Linked DNA regions of Homo sapiens: region 1 is linked to region 2. Evidence: fine-mapped expression QTL. A gene starts in region 2. The other region holds a variant in brackets. All regions are shown on one strand. Distances are between the middles of the regions.

Evidence for each region. PIP is the estimated chance that this variant, and not a neighbour inherited with it, causes the effect. A credible set is the group of variants that fine-mapping cannot tell apart.
Region 1: its variant is the best candidate, but not a certain one, in a credible set for the expression of MFAP2 in hippocampus (GTEx, PIP 0.77).

The regions. Positions count from the first base shown.
Region 1 is chr1:17,001,089-17,009,668 of GRCh38, reverse strand. ATP13A2 (ATPase cation transporting 13A2) reads left to right here. Exons shown (of 29, transcript NM_022089.4): 2 at 3,891-3,985; 3 at 4,113-4,295; 4 at 4,597-4,655; 5 at 4,848-4,977; 6 at 5,258-5,337; 7 at 7,296-7,373; 8 at 7,566-7,635. Among named protein-coding and RNA genes, the nearest start is that of ATP13A2, 6.5 kb to the left of the region's middle. The variant T/C (reference allele first, on the strand shown) is at 4,488.
Region 2 is chr1:16,975,587-16,984,166 of GRCh38, reverse strand. MFAP2 (microfibril associated protein 2) reads left to right here and starts at 3,547. Exons shown (of 9, transcript NM_002403.4): 1 at 3,547-3,580; 2 at 5,853-5,930; 3 at 6,969-7,058; 4 at 7,244-7,270; 5 at 7,373-7,459; 6 at 7,622-7,666; 7 at 8,437-8,524. The coding sequence starts at 5,894. It overlaps LOC105376806 (a long non-coding RNA gene), which reads right to left and starts at 8,306. Exons shown (of 2, transcript XR_947003.3): 1 at 7,605-8,306; 2 at 6,372-6,498. RefSeq lists enhancers at 4,266-4,771, 4,772-5,279, 5,280-5,785.

The DNA.
Region 1 (8,580 bases), 26 kb before region 2:
AATCCCAGCACTTTGGGAGGCTGAGGTAGGAGGATCAGCATGAGGCCGGGAGTTCAAGATCAGCCTGGGCAACAAAATGAGACCCTGTCCCTACTAAAAAAAAATTAGCCTGGTGCAGTGGCACCTGCCTGTAGTGCCAGCTACTTGGGAGGCAGAGGCAAGAGTACCTCCTTTAGCCTAGGAGGTCAAGGCTCCAGTGAGCTAGGATCATGCCACTGTGCTCCAGCCTGGGTGACAGAGTGAGACCCTGTCTCTTTTAAAAAAAAAAAAAAAAAAAAAAAGGAAGAGGCTCAAGCCCCTCCCCCCAACTCCCAGCACCTTTGCCTTCAAGCTCTGTTGTGTCCAAGAGACAGACATTCATTCATTCAGTCAGTCGGTCAATCAGTGTTTCCTGACCCCTGAGCACATGGCAGGTACTGTGAGCAGTAAGGGCAGTGACACCCATCTGAGCCTGATGCTGAGGGGAATGTCAGGAGTAGATGTGCTGGGCAGAGAGGACCTGGGAGTAAGGCCAGCCCTGTTCCAGCTTTGAGACAAGTCTGAGGGCAACTGCCCCAGAGGCTCAGTGCTCTCGTTTGTCAAACTGGGTAAGAGAGCCCACCTTGTGGGTTGGTGCGGGAGGAAATCAAATCAGCACCGCAGGGATGGCTCCTTTCCCATCATCCCTGAGCCCGCTGGGCTGTTGGCCTGAGGGTTTTTTTTTTTTTTTTTGAGTCTTGCTCTGTCACCCTGGCTGGAGTGCAGTGGCGTGATCTCAGCTCACTGCAAGCTCCACCTTCTGGGTTCACACCATTCTCCCGCCTCAGCCTCCCAAGTAGCTGGGACTACAGGCGCCTGCCACCACGCCCGGCTAATTTGGTTTTTATATTTTTAGTAGAGACAGGGTTTCACCGTGTTAGCCAGGATGGTCTCAGCTAGTCTCCACCTCCTGACCTCGTGATCCGCCCCCCTTGGGCTCCCAAAGGGCTGGGATTACAGGCGTGAGCCACTGCGCACGGCCGGCCTGAGGGTTTTAAGGTACAAGGAGCAACTGTTGAATGGGCCTAGGGAGCCGTGGGACAGCCAGGGCTTCAGACAGGGTGATGTGAAAGGAGAAGAGAGCCTGGGAAATGGATAAGCAGAAGCCACGCCCCCCTGACCTGGGAGCCGGGTCCTGCCCACCTGTCCACGCAACCCCCCCAGGAACTTCAAATGCTTCTACCTCCCTGTGTGCTGGATGCTTCGGGACTATCATCCTAGAGATGAGAAATGGAAGCCCAGAGAGGCAAAGGCACTTGCTGTATGAAACACAGCATCAAAAAAGAAATTCTTAGGAACAAATGATGGGCAAAAAGACAAAACCCTGTCTCTACAAAAAAAATTAGCTGGGCATGGTGGCCTGTGCCTGTAGTCCCAGCTATTTGGAGGCTGAGGTGGGAGAATTGCTTGAGCCTGGGAGGTCAAGGCTGCAGTGAGCTATGATCGCAACACTGCACTCCAGCCTGGGTGACAGAGAGAGACTGTCTCAAAAAAAGACTTATACACGAAAACTGTAAGCTGGGCATGGTGGCTCACGCCTGTAATCCCAGCACTTTGGGAAGCCGAGGCTACAAGAGTGATAAGTAAATAAATGAATGAATGAATGAATGAAAGGACATCACAACCGAGGTTACCTGGCAGGGTTGATACGTTAGCCATGTACCCTGTGCACAGTGAGCCCTCTAGGAGTGTTGAAGCCAGAGTGCTTGGGGATGGGGCTGCTCAGAGGCTGGGGGTGCTGTGCCCACAGCAGCTGCCTGGGGCACTCTGGACTCTTTGGGTAGAAATTTTAGAAGGGCTCGCCGGGCGCTGTGGCTCACGCCTGTAATCCCAGCACTTTGGGAGGCCGAGGCGGGCGGATCACGAGGTCGGGAGATCGAGACCATCCTGGCTAACACGGTGAAACCCCATCTCTACTAAAAATACAAAAAATTAGCCGGGCGTGGTGGCGGGCGCCTGTAGTCCCAGCTACTTGGGAGGCTGAGGCAGGAGAATGGTGTGAACCCGGAAGGCAGAGCTTGCAGTGAGCCGAGATCGCGCCACTGCACTCCAGCCTGGGTGACAGAGCGAGACTCGCTCTCAAAAAAAAAAAAAAAAAAAGGAAAAATTTTAGAAGGGCTCAGATTGGGGGATGAAGGAGGGAGCCCAGAAAATCAGCAGCCTACCCCGCACCCGCCCAGCTTTTCCAGCTTAGTGAGCTTTTTCAGAGGCTCTTGTGAAACCACAGATGCCTAGCACCATCCCTACCCCGGCCTGAGGAGTTGATCCAGCCAGTCTGGGGAGGGCCCTGGCATCTGCATATGTAAAAGGTGCTCCAGGTGGTCTGGGACCGTAGATGAACCCTGACAGAGGCTGTCCAAGGGTGGGGCTGGTGAGCTCTACCCGCTCTGGAGCCCCAGAACATCCACTGGCTGCCTGCCCTGCTAAGGCCACAGCTCTACAGCACAGGAGGAAGGAGTGAAAAGAATGTCTGTGGCCGGGCGCAGTGGCTCAGCCTGTCAGCCCAGCACTCAGGGAGGCAAGGCGGGTGGATCACCTGAGGTCGGCAGTTTGAGACCACCCTGACCAGCATGGTGAAACCCCGTCTCTACTGAAAATACAAAACTTAGCTGGGCGCCTGTAATCCCAGCTACTCGGGAGGCTGAGGCAGGATAATCGCTTGAACCTGGGAGGCAGAGGTTGTAGTGAGCCGAGATCATGCCATTGTATTCCAGACTGGGCGACAGAGCAAGACTTCATCTCAAAAAAAAAAGAATATCTGCAATAGAACCACCTGATACCATTCCCCAAGTCTCAGTTTACCCATCTGTAAAGATAGGCCTGCAGGGCTGACCGTTTATTAGTCCAGACTTGACTTTGCATCTCCTCACTGCCAGACCTGGGCTGGGCACGGGCATGGAATGAAGATAAGCATCCCTGACCCCTGCCCTCAGGGTGGGGACTGGATGAGGATAGAAAAGTGAGACCCAGAGCTCCAAGGAAGCTAATGGCTGGATGCACGAGCACCATGGGGGCTTGGGGCACTGTCCAGGCCCCATTCTCCAATTCTGGGCCATACCCAGCAGAAAGACCGACACACGCAAGGAAACAAGACACTACTGGCCAAGCACGGTGGCTCATGCCTGTAATCCCAGCACTTTGGGAGGCCAAAGTGGGCAGATCACTTGAGGTCAGGAGTTCGAGACCAGCCTGGCCAACATGGTGAAACCCCATCTCTACTAAAAATACAAAAATTAGCTGGGCATGGTGGTGCATGCCTATAATCCCAGCTACTCGGGAGGCTGAGGCAGGAGAATCGCTTGAACCTGGGAGGCAAAGGTTGCAGTGAGCTGAGATCAAGTGACTGCACTCCAGCCTGGGTGACAGAGTGACACTCCGTCTCAAAAAAAAAAAAAAGATACGGTAAGTAAGAACCGACGGAAAGAAGAGCCAGATAAAGGACACAGGAAGACATGAGCTTTGGGCTCTGTCAGACCAGGTGCTTACTGTTTTGTGTTTTGTTTTGTTTAGTTTTTTGAGATGGAGTCTCACTCTGTTGCTCAGGCAGGGGTGCAGTGGTGTGATCTTGCCTCACTGCAACCTCTACCTCCCAGGTTCAAGTGATTCCCCTGCCTCAGCCTCCTGAGTAGCTGAGATTACAGGCACGCGCTGCCACGCCCGGCTAATTTTTTTTATTTTTAGTAGAGATGGGTTTCACCATGTTAGCCAGGTTGATCTCGAACTTCTAACCTCAGGTGATCCACCCGCCTCGGCCTCCCAAAGTGCTGGGATTACAGGCGTGAGCCACCGCGCCCAGGCTGATGTTTATTGTTTTTAAGGAAGCAAGAGGAGAAGGTGCCTCCCCAAATGACCTTTCTCTTTTCTGTCCACAGACAGCAGCCCTCTCGTGGGCAGCACGCCCACCGGTTATGGGACCCTGACGATAGGGACATCAATAGATCCCCTCAGCTCCTCAGTTTCATCCGTGGTAAGTGGGCAGAGTGGGGTGGGGAAAAGCTGCAGGGGGTGAATGCCCAGGCCCACCCAGACACCCCAACTTCCTACTCCAGCCCCGTTCCCACCCCGACCTGGGCCCTCTCTCGCTGCGTTCGCAGAGGCTCAGCGGCTACTGTGGCAGTCCATGGAGGGTCATCGGCTATCACGTCGTGGTCTGGATGATGGCTGGGATCCCTTTGCTGCTCTTCCGTTGGAAGCCCCTGTGGGGGGTGCGGCTGCGGCTCCGGCCCTGCAACCTGGCCCACGCCGAAACACTCGTTATCGAAATAAGAGACAAAGAGGTGAGAGTCAGGCTGAGCCTGGGGCTAGAGAAGCGCAGTGAGGGTCAGGGTCGGGGGTGGAGGATGCTTGGGTGCCAACCCGGCCACTGACTTTCCATGGGACATTAGGCAGGTCCCGCTCTTCTCTGGACCTCAGCTTTCCCATCTGAGCATTGGGCAGAAGGGACGGGTCGGGTGGTTTCTGGAGGGCTC[T/C]CCATAGCCTTGATTTCTGCCTTCTCCAGCAGGGGCCGCCTGGCTGTAGGACAGGGCCTGGGAGGGGAGGGGACTCTTCTGAGACTGAGTCCATACCTCTGTGTTCCAGGATAGTTCCTGGCAGCTCTTCACTGTCCAGGTGCAGACTGAGGCCATCGGCGAGGGCAGGTGAGGCAGCCCCATTGCCCCTTCCCAGAAGCCCCTGCTACCCTGGCCTCCCCAACTTCCCCAACCCTCGGCCCCCCCATAAAGGCTGACTCTGGCGCCTCCCATCCTAGGGAGGGAAGATGGCTCTGTGAGCACAGGGAGGTGCCAGGGCAGCTCCCAGAGCTCGAGAGTAACCCTCACCTGCTTCCCCAGCCTGGAGCCGTCCCCACAGTCCCAGGCAGAGGATGGCCGGAGCCAGGCGGCAGTTGGGGCGGTACCAGAGGGTGCCTGGAAGGATACGGCCCAGCTCCACAAGAGCGAGGAGGCGGTGAGTGTCGGACAGGTGGGTTCTGAAAAAGTCCTTGCCCCTCTCTCGGCCTCGGTTTCATGATCTGTGCAATGGGAGAGTCAGACTTCATGTTCTCCCACCACCTTTTAGTTCTGTTGTCCCAAACATCCAGGATGCTGTCTGAGCACGTTTACACTTTCAGGCCTCTCCCCACCTCTCTGTCTGGTGACACCAGTCCCTGCCCCCTACCCCCATCCCTCGGCTCCCAGCATAAGCACACTGCTTCTGGGGCCGGGGCCAGCTTCCAACCCATCCTCTCCTCTCTCCCACCCAGAAGCGGGTGCTGCGGTATTACCTCTTCCAGGGCCAGCGCTATATCTGGATCGAGACCCAGCAAGCCTTCTACCAGGTCAGGTAGGAGTCAGGGCCTGTGTGGCTCATGTCACCTCCCAGAGTGGCACTGGTTTGGGCACAGACGGTGGCATGGCATGGCCTGGGCTCCCCTCTCAGCTCTGATGCTTTTGCTGTCTGAAACCTTGGGCAGGTTACTGAGCCCCTCCAGGCCTGGGATCTCTGTCTATAAATAGGGCATGAAGATAACTTCTGCCTCCTAGGATTGTTTTGATGGTGAAATAGATAATAATTTATGTAGAGCTTGGCACCGAATGTGATCTGAGGTTGTGACACCACTGTGAATCAGACTATCAGCTCTGTACTCAGACTGTCTGCTTGGGGTTTAGTCACTGCTCTGCCACCTACAAAAGGCTTAAGAAACATGAGCTCAGGCTGGGTGCGGTGGCTCACCCCTGTAATCCCAGCACTTTGGGAAGCCAAGACAGGTGGATCACGAGGTCAGGAGTTCAAGATCAGCCTGGCCAAGATGCTGAAACCCCATCTCTACTAAAAACACAAAAATTAGCTGGGCGTGATGGCATGTGCCTGTAATCCCAGCTACTTGGGAGGCTGAGGCAGGAAAATCGCTTGAACCTGGGCGGCAGAGGTTGCAGTGAGCCAACATCGCGCCACTGCACTCTAGCCTGGATGACAGAGCATGACTCCATCTCAAAAAAAAAAAAAAAGAAAAAGAAACACAAGCTCACCACACACCTTAGTTTGTGTGTATGTGTGTGTGTGTGTGTGTGTGTGTGTGTGTGTGTGTGGTTTTTTTGGTTTGTTTGTTTGTTTTTTAAGATGGAGTTTCACTCTTGTTGCCCGGGCTGGAGTGCAATGCCGCATTCTCGGCTCACTGCACCTCCGCCTCCTGGGTTCAAGCGATTCTCCTGCCTCAGCCTCCCGAGTAGTTGGGATTACAGGTGCATGCCACCACACCCAGCTAATTTTTGCATGTTTTGTAGGGACGGGGTTTCACCATGTTGGCCAGGCTGTTCTCAAATACCTGACCTCAGGTGATCCACCCGCCTCAGCCTCCCAAAGTGCTAGAATTACAGGCATGAGCCACCGGGCCCTGCTCACACACTTTAGTTTGAATGCCGCAGAAGCAGACCCCCAGACAAGGGCTCAAGGGCAGGGAGTTTGTTTTGAAGCTGATCCCAGGCAGTGCTGGGGAAGGGATGGAAGCACGGAGGGAGGTTATGCTGGCTGCCACAGCTGTGGACACCCGGACTTCAGTCGCCTGGGGATCTCCTTGGGCCAGCGTAGACCACACACCTCTGGGCGACCTCACACAGGGAGTGAGGACAGTTACCATCAAATTCCCTGCCATTATCAGTCACGGGACACAAAGTCTTCCACGCTTTCCGGGCTCACAGGCAGGGGATTCACATGCAGCCAGAAGGCCTCAGGTAAAGACAGGTGTTTTCAGGGTCCAGCTGTCATGTGGAGGTGAGGCAGAGGGGAGATGGGGATGGCAGCAACAGCCTCTGCTGCATGATGGGGATAATAGCAAAAATCACCCGTGCATTCATCACTTAGCAAGTGGCAGGCACGTCCAAAGCAGTCCCCGAGGCTTGCCCCACTTAATCTACCCATGGCCCTATGTGGTAGGTGCTGTCACTGCCCCCATTTTGCAGATGAGAAAACTGAGGCACAGAGAGGTTAAGTGACTTGCCCAGGGTATCATCAGTGTAAATAGTGCCCTTATCACTAAATAACAGCTACTCTTTTCACTGTTCATATTATTAGCATCATCTCTCGCTGTTCTCCTTCTTCAGTGACTTGGTTTGGAACCCAGTGAGAGGAACAAAAGGGCAAAGCCAAGCCTTGGGTTCAAGGGGGCTTACTTGCTCCCAGGAGCTCAGTGTGGCAGAACGGGGATGGGGGGCCTAGAGCCCATAGTCTCCAGCCTGCACAGGGTGGGGGATGCAGACCTCAGGCCCCATGGCCCATGCGTGTCCCCTCGCACCCACCCCCAGCCTCCTGGACCATGGCCGCTCTTGTGACGACGTCCACCGCTCCCGCCATGGCCTCAGCCTCCAGGACCAAATGGTGAGGTCAGTGCTGCCCTGGACCGGGGTGCCCTGAGAACTGGGGCTCCTTGTGTTGCCCCCCAATGTGGTTGCCTTCCAGTCACCTGCCTTCTCTGGGCCTCAGTTCCCCCAGCTGAAAGTGGGGAGCTCCTTCACCCCGGGAGGGTCCAGCCACAGCTCCTCCTTCTGATGGCTTGGCCTCATCCCCTCTTCCAGGAAGGCCATTTACGGCCCCAACGTGATCAGCATACCGGTCAAGTCCTACCCCCAGCTGCTGGTGGACGAGGTAGGGCTGTCCCTGGGTCTTGCCCCAGCCCTGCCTGGCGTGCTGTGTGACCTTGGCCCAGGGCTTGCCTCCTCTGGGCCACTTTACGGTGGCAACCAGACCAGCTGTCCCCTTCTCCATAGTGGATCGTCATCTCAGAACCTGCCGCAGTCAGCCTAGCCAGAGAGACCAGGTCCAGGAATTGGAGGTTCTGCCCAAGGCTTGGGTCACAGATTGGGGCCCCACTCATAGGGATTGGAGGCCAAGAGGCAAATCCACGCAGCCTGAGCATCTATGGGGTCCCCAGAGACACGCCCTAGAGCCTGGGTCCTCTCTGTGCGTCCTCCACTTTCATGCTCCCAACAGTCCCGTGGGTTGGGCCTGGGACTGCACTGTTCACACCTGAGAAATCCAAGCTTCAGTTGGAGGCTGTGACATGGCCAAGGTCACACAGGGACAAAGAGAAGCCAGTGACCTGGACACAACTAGAATAAAGTGTGAACATCCCAGCCCTCTGATCGGGGGCAGGCACCATGAAAGAGATCTTTGAGTCTGGCCCCATAGAAATCAGTCTGTCACTTAGAAGCTATGTGGTTTTTTGTTTTTTGTTTGTTGTTTTTTTTTTTGAGACAGAGTTTTGCTCTTGTTGCCCAGGCTGGAGTGCAATGGCGTGATCTCGGCTCACTGCGATGTCCACCTCCTGGGTTCAAGTGATTCTCCTGCCTGAGCCTCCTACATAGCTGGGACTACAGGCGCCTGCCACCACGCCCAGCTAATTTTTTTTTTTTTTTGTATTTTTAGTAGATACGGGGATTCACTATGTTGGCTAGGCTGGTCTCAAACTCCTGACCTCAGATGACCCACCTGCCTCGGCCTTGCAAAGTGCTGGGATTATAGGCATGAGCCACCGCACCTGGCTGGAACTATGTGGTTTTAGGCCAGTGGCTTCACCTGTCCATGCCTTGG
Region 2 (8,580 bases):
CCCAGCTAATTTTTGTATTTTTTGTAGAGATGGGGTTTTGCCATGCTGTCCAGGCTGGTCTCAAACCCCTGGGCTCAAGCGGTCCACCCGCCTTGGTCTCCTAAACTGCTGAGATTACAGGTGTGAGCCACTGCACCCAACCTCCCTCCTTTTTTCAAGGGTAGGGGACAGCATTTCTGCTGGGTGAGTTCCTCTCTTTTGCCAGTGGGATTGCTCCTGGCAGCAGTGGGGTCTAAGGGCAGGCAGAGAGGGCTGGGCTGGCCTGGCCTGAGGGCCCACCTCTCTCCAGGTGACAAAAGTCTCTGCTGCCCTGCAATAGACACTGGGGGGCGGGGCATGGGAATGAAGGAGGCACAGGGCATATTTACTCCCTCCCTAAGACTCAGAGTCTAAGGGAGGTGGGGGAATGACTGGCGATGAAGAGATCAGATGGCAAGGGTCTAAATCAGGGGCCATCCTCATCTCCTCCCAGCCCGCAGCCCCTACAACTCTCACTCCCGCCTCAGGCCTAGGCTCCTGGGCAGGGCTGAAGGCTGCCCCTCACGCAGAGGATCTGCACCCCCAGCCAGCTTCTCCGGGAAGAGTTTAGTGTACAGTTCACTCATTCATTCCACCAATGTTTGCTGAACTGCTGCTCTGAGCCGGGCTCTGAACTTAATGAGCAAAACTGAAGATGAGCAAAAACAGCCTTGGTCCTGGCCTTCACGGGGCAAGATGACAGTCTCATCGGGAAGAGGGACAGGGCTCAGATGGTCACAGACATAGGCCAACAAGACAACTGCAAGCAGTAAAGCTAGAAAGCACAAAAAAAGGAAAAAGGGAAGGCCCCTCTGAGGAAGGGAGGGTTTGATCTGTGACCCCATGGAGGAGACCTCAGCCAGTGCTCGGGAGGAAGAAACGCCTCAGTGTGGGAGGGAGAGGGGTTTGGGAGAAAACCCCCAAAGGCCAGTGGCTGGAGGAGGAAGAGGAGGCAGAGCCAGGCTGCCATAAAGGGCCGGGGCCCTGGAAGCCACAGGGAAGTTGAGCCTCTAACCTGAGTGAAAGGCGATCAGTAGAAGGGGCACGATCTGCGGGGGTGAGGGAGGCAGGACCCACGTGGGAGAGCCCAGAGTGGAGGCTATCGCAGAGCCCAGGCAAATGATGGTGGTGTCAACTAAATAAGAAATCAGCCTTTTGACCAGGTGCAGTGGCTCACGCCTGTAATTCCAGCACTTTGGGAGGCCAAGGTGGGTGGATCAGCTGAGGTCAGGAGTACGAGACGAGCCTGGACAACATGGAGAAGCCTCGTCTCTACGAGAAATAAAAAAAAAAAAAAAAATAGCCAGGCATGGTGGTGGGTGCCTGTAGTCCCCACTACTCTGGAGGCTGAGGCATGAGAATCGCTTGAACCCAGGAGGCAGAGGTTGCAGTGAGTTGAGGATGCACCACTGCACTCCAGCCTGGGAGATAGCAAGACCCTGTCTCAAAAAAAAAGAAAAAGAAAAAATCCACCTTTTGGCCAGGCACAGTGGCTCATGCCTATAATCCCAGCACTTTGGGAACCCAAGGCAGGCGGATCAGCTAAGGTCAGGAGCCTGGCCAACATGGTGAAACCCTGTCTCTACTCAAAAAAAAAAAGCAAAAATTAGCCTGGCATGCTGGCATGTGCCTGTAATCCCAGCTACCCGAGAGGCTGGGTTGGGAGAACCTCTTGAACCCGGGAGGTGGAGGTTACAGGGAGCCGAGGTCACACCACTGCACTCCAGCCTGGGCAACAGAGTTAAACTCCATTTCAAAAAAAAAAAAAAAATCAGCCATTGAAAAAATTAAAGTTAGTTTTATTGAGTCTTACTGAGGACTGCACCCTGGGAGAGGGTTTCAGAGAGTTTCTGTTAGACTGCGCCAAAGCAGCATTTCAGCCCACAGTTTAGATACAGAGGCAGGCGGTTCTGTGTGTGCTCAGAAGCTATGGTCAGGCACGGTGGCTCACGTCCGTAATCCCAGCACTTTTGGAGGCTGAGGCGGGTGGATTGCTTGAGCTCAGGAGTTTGAGACCAGACTGGGCAAACACGGCAAAACCCCTTCTCTACAAAAAATACAAAAAAAAAAAAAAAAAAAAAAAATTAGCCAGGCATGGCGGCTCTTGCCTGTAGTCCCAGCTACTTGGGAGGCTGAGGTGGAAGGATCACTTGAGCCCAAGAGGTGAGCTGTGATGGTGCCACTGCACTCCAGCCTGGATGACAGAGCGAGACCCGGTCTCATTAAAAAAAGAAGAAGAAAAATTTACATCAAATGTCTTCAGAAGCTACACTAGTGCAAATCTCGCCAAGGTTTGGGTTCGAGGATGCACCTAGTTATATAGATTATAGAGGCATAATCGTCAATCCTGTCAGGTGCTATCTTATGTACAGGAAAAGGCACAGCCAGGATCATTTAACTTATATTTTCTAACAATGCAGTGATTCAGGCAAGAGGCGTGGGAGCCTGTGTTCTGCCCTGCCTGCCATCTTCAAGGCATCCTTCCGTTGGGCTGCCCCCAGTCACTGAGTCAGGGCTTTGTCAGCTTCTGACAAGCAGAAAGAGCAAATGCGGTTTCTTGGGATTGCAACTTGGTCTCACAGTGGCTTAGGCCAGGGTGGGAGCAGTGAACGGAGTCACAAAAGAAATTTTTCAGGTAGCATTCACGGGTGGGTGCTGGATTAGATGCAGGGCTAAGGGCAGGGGAGGAAGCCTGGGTAATGGAAGGCTGCGGGGCCAAGGGGGGACTGGGAATCCTGGAGGGCCAGGTCTGGGGGAGAGTTAGGAGGTCGTGAATTTGGACTTGGATGCTTGTTGAAGCTGATGCATCTTGAGGACATTTGTGGGACACATAGGCTGGGTCAGGGCTGAAAGAGGTGCTGGTTATGGCCGGGGGCAGGGACTCATGCCTGTAATCCCAACAGCCCAGGAGGATGAGACAGGAGGAATGCTTGAGGCCAAAATTTCGAGGCCGGAAGTTCCAGACGAGCCTGGGCAACACAGCAAGACCCTGTCTCTAGAAAAGGAAAGAAAGAACCGCTGGTTGTGGAAGCCAGCCATGGCCCAGAGCTCAGCAGTGTAGGAGAGGAGGGTGCGGGCCTGAGAGAGGCAGCAGGCTTGGCTGGAGAGGCAGAAGGAAAACCAAGGCAGGAGAGTGTCCTGGAAGCTGGGAGAAGGCAGAGGGAGATCGAGGCTTACTTTCTGGCTGAGGGGCCTAGGGTGAGTCACTTTGGGAGGCTTGATTTCCTCCTCTGTGAAATGGGCAACACACCTACCCTTGCCCACCTCACCCCCCTCACCCCGTCGACGTCGAGTGAGGAGCAGCTGTGAGGAGGAGGAAGCTTTGCACAGACGTGAGGACGGCCCCGGGCGCCTCTACCCCGGGGACACCCCCCCCCCCAGGAGATGGAACCCCGAGGGCACGGCGTGGCGGCCCATGCGGGCAGCTCGCGTTAGGACCCAGCGGCTCCGGGGCTGGAGGGCGGGCGCCAGCCCCGTCGGGGGCCCGGAGGGGGACTCGGAGCGGGCCAAGGGGCGGCTCCGGCGGGCGGACTCGGAGCGGGCGGCGGAGTGACCCGGACAGGTAGGCGCGGGCCTGGCGCTTGGGGGCCCCGGGGGGCGGTCAGGGGCGTCGGCGGGTCCCCCGGCGCGGGGGCGAGGGTGCCAGGCTCTCTGGGTCCTCGATCCTGGGGCAGCCGCGGAGGTTCCTGAACCCCGCGCCTTCAGAGCGGAGGCCAAGGGGGCACCTGGAAAGTTTGGGGTTGCTCTGCAGAGAGAACGCGAATTGGGAAGGGCGGGGAGCCCGAGTTTGGGGGGAGCCAGAGGTGAGGTCGTCGGGGGATGGGACATCTTTTGTTCTCCCGGGGAGGTTGGAATGTGGCGGGTGGGGTGGGGGGGGGGGGTCCGGTGGGAATGGCCGAGACAGAGACGCAGAGAGACAAAGAGAGATCAGAGACGGGAGCGCGAGGGCGCGCGGAGCAAGTTTCCGCGGCTGATTGTTCCCAGCTGTGCGGCGCTGCAACATCTGGGTTTCTCCCGCCGGGACCCCTCCCCCTGAGCCCGGCTCTGGAGCCGGCAGAGCCCTCCCTCCGTCTGATGTCTGAGCGAGCGTCGGGGCCCCCTGTCCCCCACCTCCCAGGACGCAGGGGAGTCGGGGGTGGGGGAGGCCGCAGCTGTGGAAGAGGCCAGAGGTGGGGGTGGGGCAGCCTCCCAGGCAGGTCCTGGCCTCCCGCACGCCCCAAAACCCCTTCGTCTAGAAGAGCTCGGAGATGTGGTCCCGTGGGAGGAGTTCATGAACTCCACACTGACTTCTCTCTTTCCTGCCTCCCCGCTAGCCCGTGGGCCTCCTTCCCCCAATAAGCCTGGGTTCGGGGGCCAGTCCTAGGGGAGGAAGACTCCCCGCAGGGTACCGACAGGCATCCCCCAACACCTTGCAACCCCTCTTGCCCCAATTCAGCGCCTTCTGCTGAGCAGCGGGGGCTCCGACCGACCTGACGGATGGGGAGAAGGGCAAGGAAGGCTCTCTGGGTCTTTTCATCCCCCTCCCATGAGGAGGTCAAGGGTTTTCAGAATGGGGTGTGGGGAGCCAGCTATCCCTCGCCTCTGGGGCAGCTTGGTCCTGAGCTTCGTCTCCCGGCTCCCACTCCACCTTAGTGAGGTGCCTAATGCATGAGAGGAGCCAGGGGGTCAGGAGGCCTCAGGATTGAGAGGAAGGAGGGAAAGACCTCCTGCTTTCTCCCCTTTCCCTCCCCTCTCCCTGGACTCCCAGTGGGGAAAATAGACCAAAGTTGGGGTTTCCAGCTAGCTCTCTGAAAGGACTTCCTGGGTTGCAGCCGGGAGGGGCCCTCCTGGATGGACCCCGCCCTCGCAGCCCTCCCTACAGAAGGCTGACGGACCTGAGGTGGCCCTCCACTGAGCTGGGGCTGGATGTGGGGAACCGGAGGCTCCCCCAAGTCCCACCGTGTAGCCAGGACTGGAGGCTGGGCTCTTGAATGTCAGGAGCCTGATGAAAGCCACGGACCCCATGCCCTCTCCCTCCAAATGACACACACACTTGCCTACAGTGTCAGGGGGTGCAGAACCCCCAGCCTGGGTGATGTCACGGCCCCTTCAGTGCTGCCTTTCTGGGATCCAGAGGAGCCCCCTCAGGCTTCACTCTCGTGCTTCCTGCTGCTGCAAATAGCCCGGGTCTCGTGAGCCTGTGATGCACACAGCCAGGTCTTGCGAGGCCTGGAGGCCTGGCAGGAGAGGAGTCTTCTGGGAGCTGGGAGCCCTGCCCGGCCTGGCCGCTCTGGGGGCCGGGCAGGCCCATGTGTATGTGGTTTCCTGCTGAGCAGGATGCTTAGGGCCCAGGGGCTAATTGGGAGCAGGTGGTGGCTTGGCAGAAGCTGCTGAGTCCAGGCGGTGATGCCGGCTGGCCAGGGCTGGGGTCCCAAGGATGGGCCTGGGTTCAGTGATTCACGCAGTCAGTGCCTTGGACACCCAGGGAGCCACTGGGCCAGAGGGCTGAGCACGGGTGTGGGTGAGGACAGAATGGCCTGGGCTGGGAGCACATTAGGAATGTCCCCTTAGTGAGCAGGGCAGGGTCCGCCCTTCCCTGACCACATCAAGTACACCCACTACACGGGGTTTGCTTGTCAGGATCAGCCCTGGAGCTGGGTTGGAGGCCTTGTCCCTTGTGACCTGAACACCTGGGTGGGCCAGCAGGGACTGGGATGTCCCTCCACTCCAGCCCTCCCATGCCTGGCTTCTATTCTGGGTGCCACCTTCTCCAGGGCGAAATCAGGGGATCAAAGGTGAGCTCTGCTGTCCTGGGTGTGGCCCTGGGTAGAGCTCTCCCACCGGTCTTTCCCCAGCTGTCCTCTCTGACACCACCCCGGCCTGCCTCTTTGTTGCCATGAGAGCTGCCTACCTCTTCCTGCTATTCCTGCCTGGTAAGTGGCTCCTGGGGCAGGGGGTAGCTCCTCTTATGTGGGGCTGAGGAGTAGGGTTAGTAGGGGGAATTCATAGTGAGCCTTTGTCACGACTTATGACCAGAACTCAGCTCCCCAGCTCCCAGGGCCTTCTGCCTGCTTGGACCACAGACTGGACCAGCCAACCCTGGCAGCATCTGGAGGCAGCTCCTGGCCCTTCCCCCAGCCTTCCACAGCAGCAGGCAGGCAGGGTTCTGGAGGGCACGTCCCAGGCACAAGGACTCCGTGGGCACAAGGCACAAGGCCTCTCTGGGAGCCGATGTGCAGGTGCAGGGGCACCCAAGGCAGGGAGTCCGGATGCTTGAGTTCTAGATCCATTCAGGGCCCTTCTGCTCTATACAGTCCTGACCTTGTGGGGGTCCCTACTGGCCAAATGAAGAGAATCAATGAGGACCACAAAAGTCCTAGCAGGGCCAACATTCATTCATTCAGCAGCGATGTGTTGAGTCCCTACCACGTGCCAAGTGCTGGGCTAGGCCCTGGGGATTCAGCGATGAACCAGGCAGACACATCGTTGCTCCTCATCATGCTGCCAGTCCAGGGAAGGGAGACAAATAGGAAACAAGCAGACATGAGAAACTCCAGCATGTGCTGAGTGCTGGACAGAAATCAGCAGGAGGGCTGGTGGGCTGGAGGTGGGGCGGCATCTTGGCACAGCTGAAATTCCAGGGAAGACCTGAAGGAGCTGAGCAGGCCTCACAGGCCCAGGGAGTGTCAGGTGCAAAGGCTCTGAGGGAGGCAGGAGCATGTGGAGTCCTAGGAGCAGCCAGGAGGCCAGCAACAGGAAGGGGCAGGGTAAGGTCAGGGAGGTGACCCATGACCAGGGTGGGGAAGGGTCTTTACCATCGAAGAAGAGTCTGGATCCTCTAGGAATCTGCTTGTGGGGTCCTAGGCTCTTATGGGCCTGACCTTGTGACCCCCGCCTCCACTCTCCAGAAGCGCCTCGGGCCCCCGTTGCCCCTCCCGATGGGGTACCCTACATGCTTTGCCTCCCCACAGCAGGCTTGCTGGCTCAGGGCCAGTATGACCTGGACCCGCTGCCGCCGTTCCCTGACCACGTCCAGTACACCCACTATAGCGACCAGATCGGTAAGGGCCTTGCCGGGTCACCGAGGCCTGGCTGCTCAGATGTGCCTGGCTCAGCCAGGGACCGCACTGGACACGCTGATGGGAACTCTGGGGGTTGGTCCCTGGCTCAGGAGGGAACTTGTTTGCCCCAGGGGCTGGGGGATTAGCCTTACTCCCACCAATTCCACTTTCATCTTTGTTTGCAGACAACCCAGACTACTATGATTATCAAGGTAACGGGCTAGGGGTAGGATAGGACGGGCCGGCAGCTGGGGTGGGGAGACCCCCTGGGAGGGGTAGAGGGAGCAGACCCCCTTATCCTCCCCTGGCTGCAGAGGTGACTCCTCGGCCCTCCGAGGAACAGTTCCAGTTCCAGTCCCAGCAGCAAGTCCAACAGGAAGTCATCCCAGCCCCAACCCCAGGTAGGCCCCAGACCCTGCTCCCACCCGTCTCAGCTCCTGCCTCACCCCTCCCCACCCTGTCAACCCTGGGAGTGGGGGTCTGCCAGGGCTGGGAGAGGTGACTCCCCTTGCCCTGAGGAGACCCCTCCCAGTGATGTCTGCCTACCTCTGTCTCCACACCAGAACCAGGAAATGCAGAGCTGGAGCCCACAGAGCCTGGGCCTCTTGGTAAGGGCTTTCTTGACAGCTGGAAAAATGGAGGCACGCCCTGAAGTTGGGGTGGAGTAGGGGGTGGTGCTGGTGGGCTGGAGGTCTTTGGCCCTTGCCCATGTGGGCTCTTGGCAGTGTGGGCAGTATGACTGCCGTAGGCTGGCATCACCAGGCCCCCCAGGCAGCTCCAGGAGGTCCCACCTGTCCCCAGTGTGCCTGGCTGGAGGCTAAATTGGCAGCCTAGGAAGGCCCCTGACCTCACAGATACTGGGAGGGGCAGGGAGTGTGCTGGGGGCTTCCTGCCAGCCAGAGAGACTGAGTGGTGCACATGTGGAGGCGAGGAAGGGCCAGGGAGTGCAGGCTGGCTGAGCGGTGCCCTCCGGCTGCCCTAGCTGAGAGCTTGAAAGAACAAGGTGTGTGTGTGCAGGAGAATCCGTGTGCTCACTCTCGTGTGGGTTGGTGTGAGCGCTCCTATGTGGGCTTCTGTGAGCGTGGGCACGTCTGCTCGGGAGTTGGTATGGGCTTTTGTGGCGATGCATGGGTGGGTGCAAATTTCTGTTTGAACTTAGGCTTCTATAGTAAGTGCGGTTGTGAATTGATACGTGAATATTACAGCCCTGGGAAGTCTGACAATGCTGCGTGGGTCTATGTGGGCATGTGTAGGTATGGGTGTCTGCACGGGGCCTGAAGGTACAGGGGGGACTAGGCCCTGTGAGCCAGCCTCAGGTGGGTGAGGCTGGGGGCCGCCCCCCACTCTGGGCTCCTAGTCTGACCCCACCTGTCACCAGACTGCCGTGAGGAACAGTACCCGTGCACCCGCCTCTACTCCATACACAGGCCTTGCAAACAGTGTCTCAACGAGGTCTGCTTCTACAGGTGAGCACAGATGGGCAGCTGTCGGGAGGATTCCGGAGCATGGGGGGCTAGAGGGC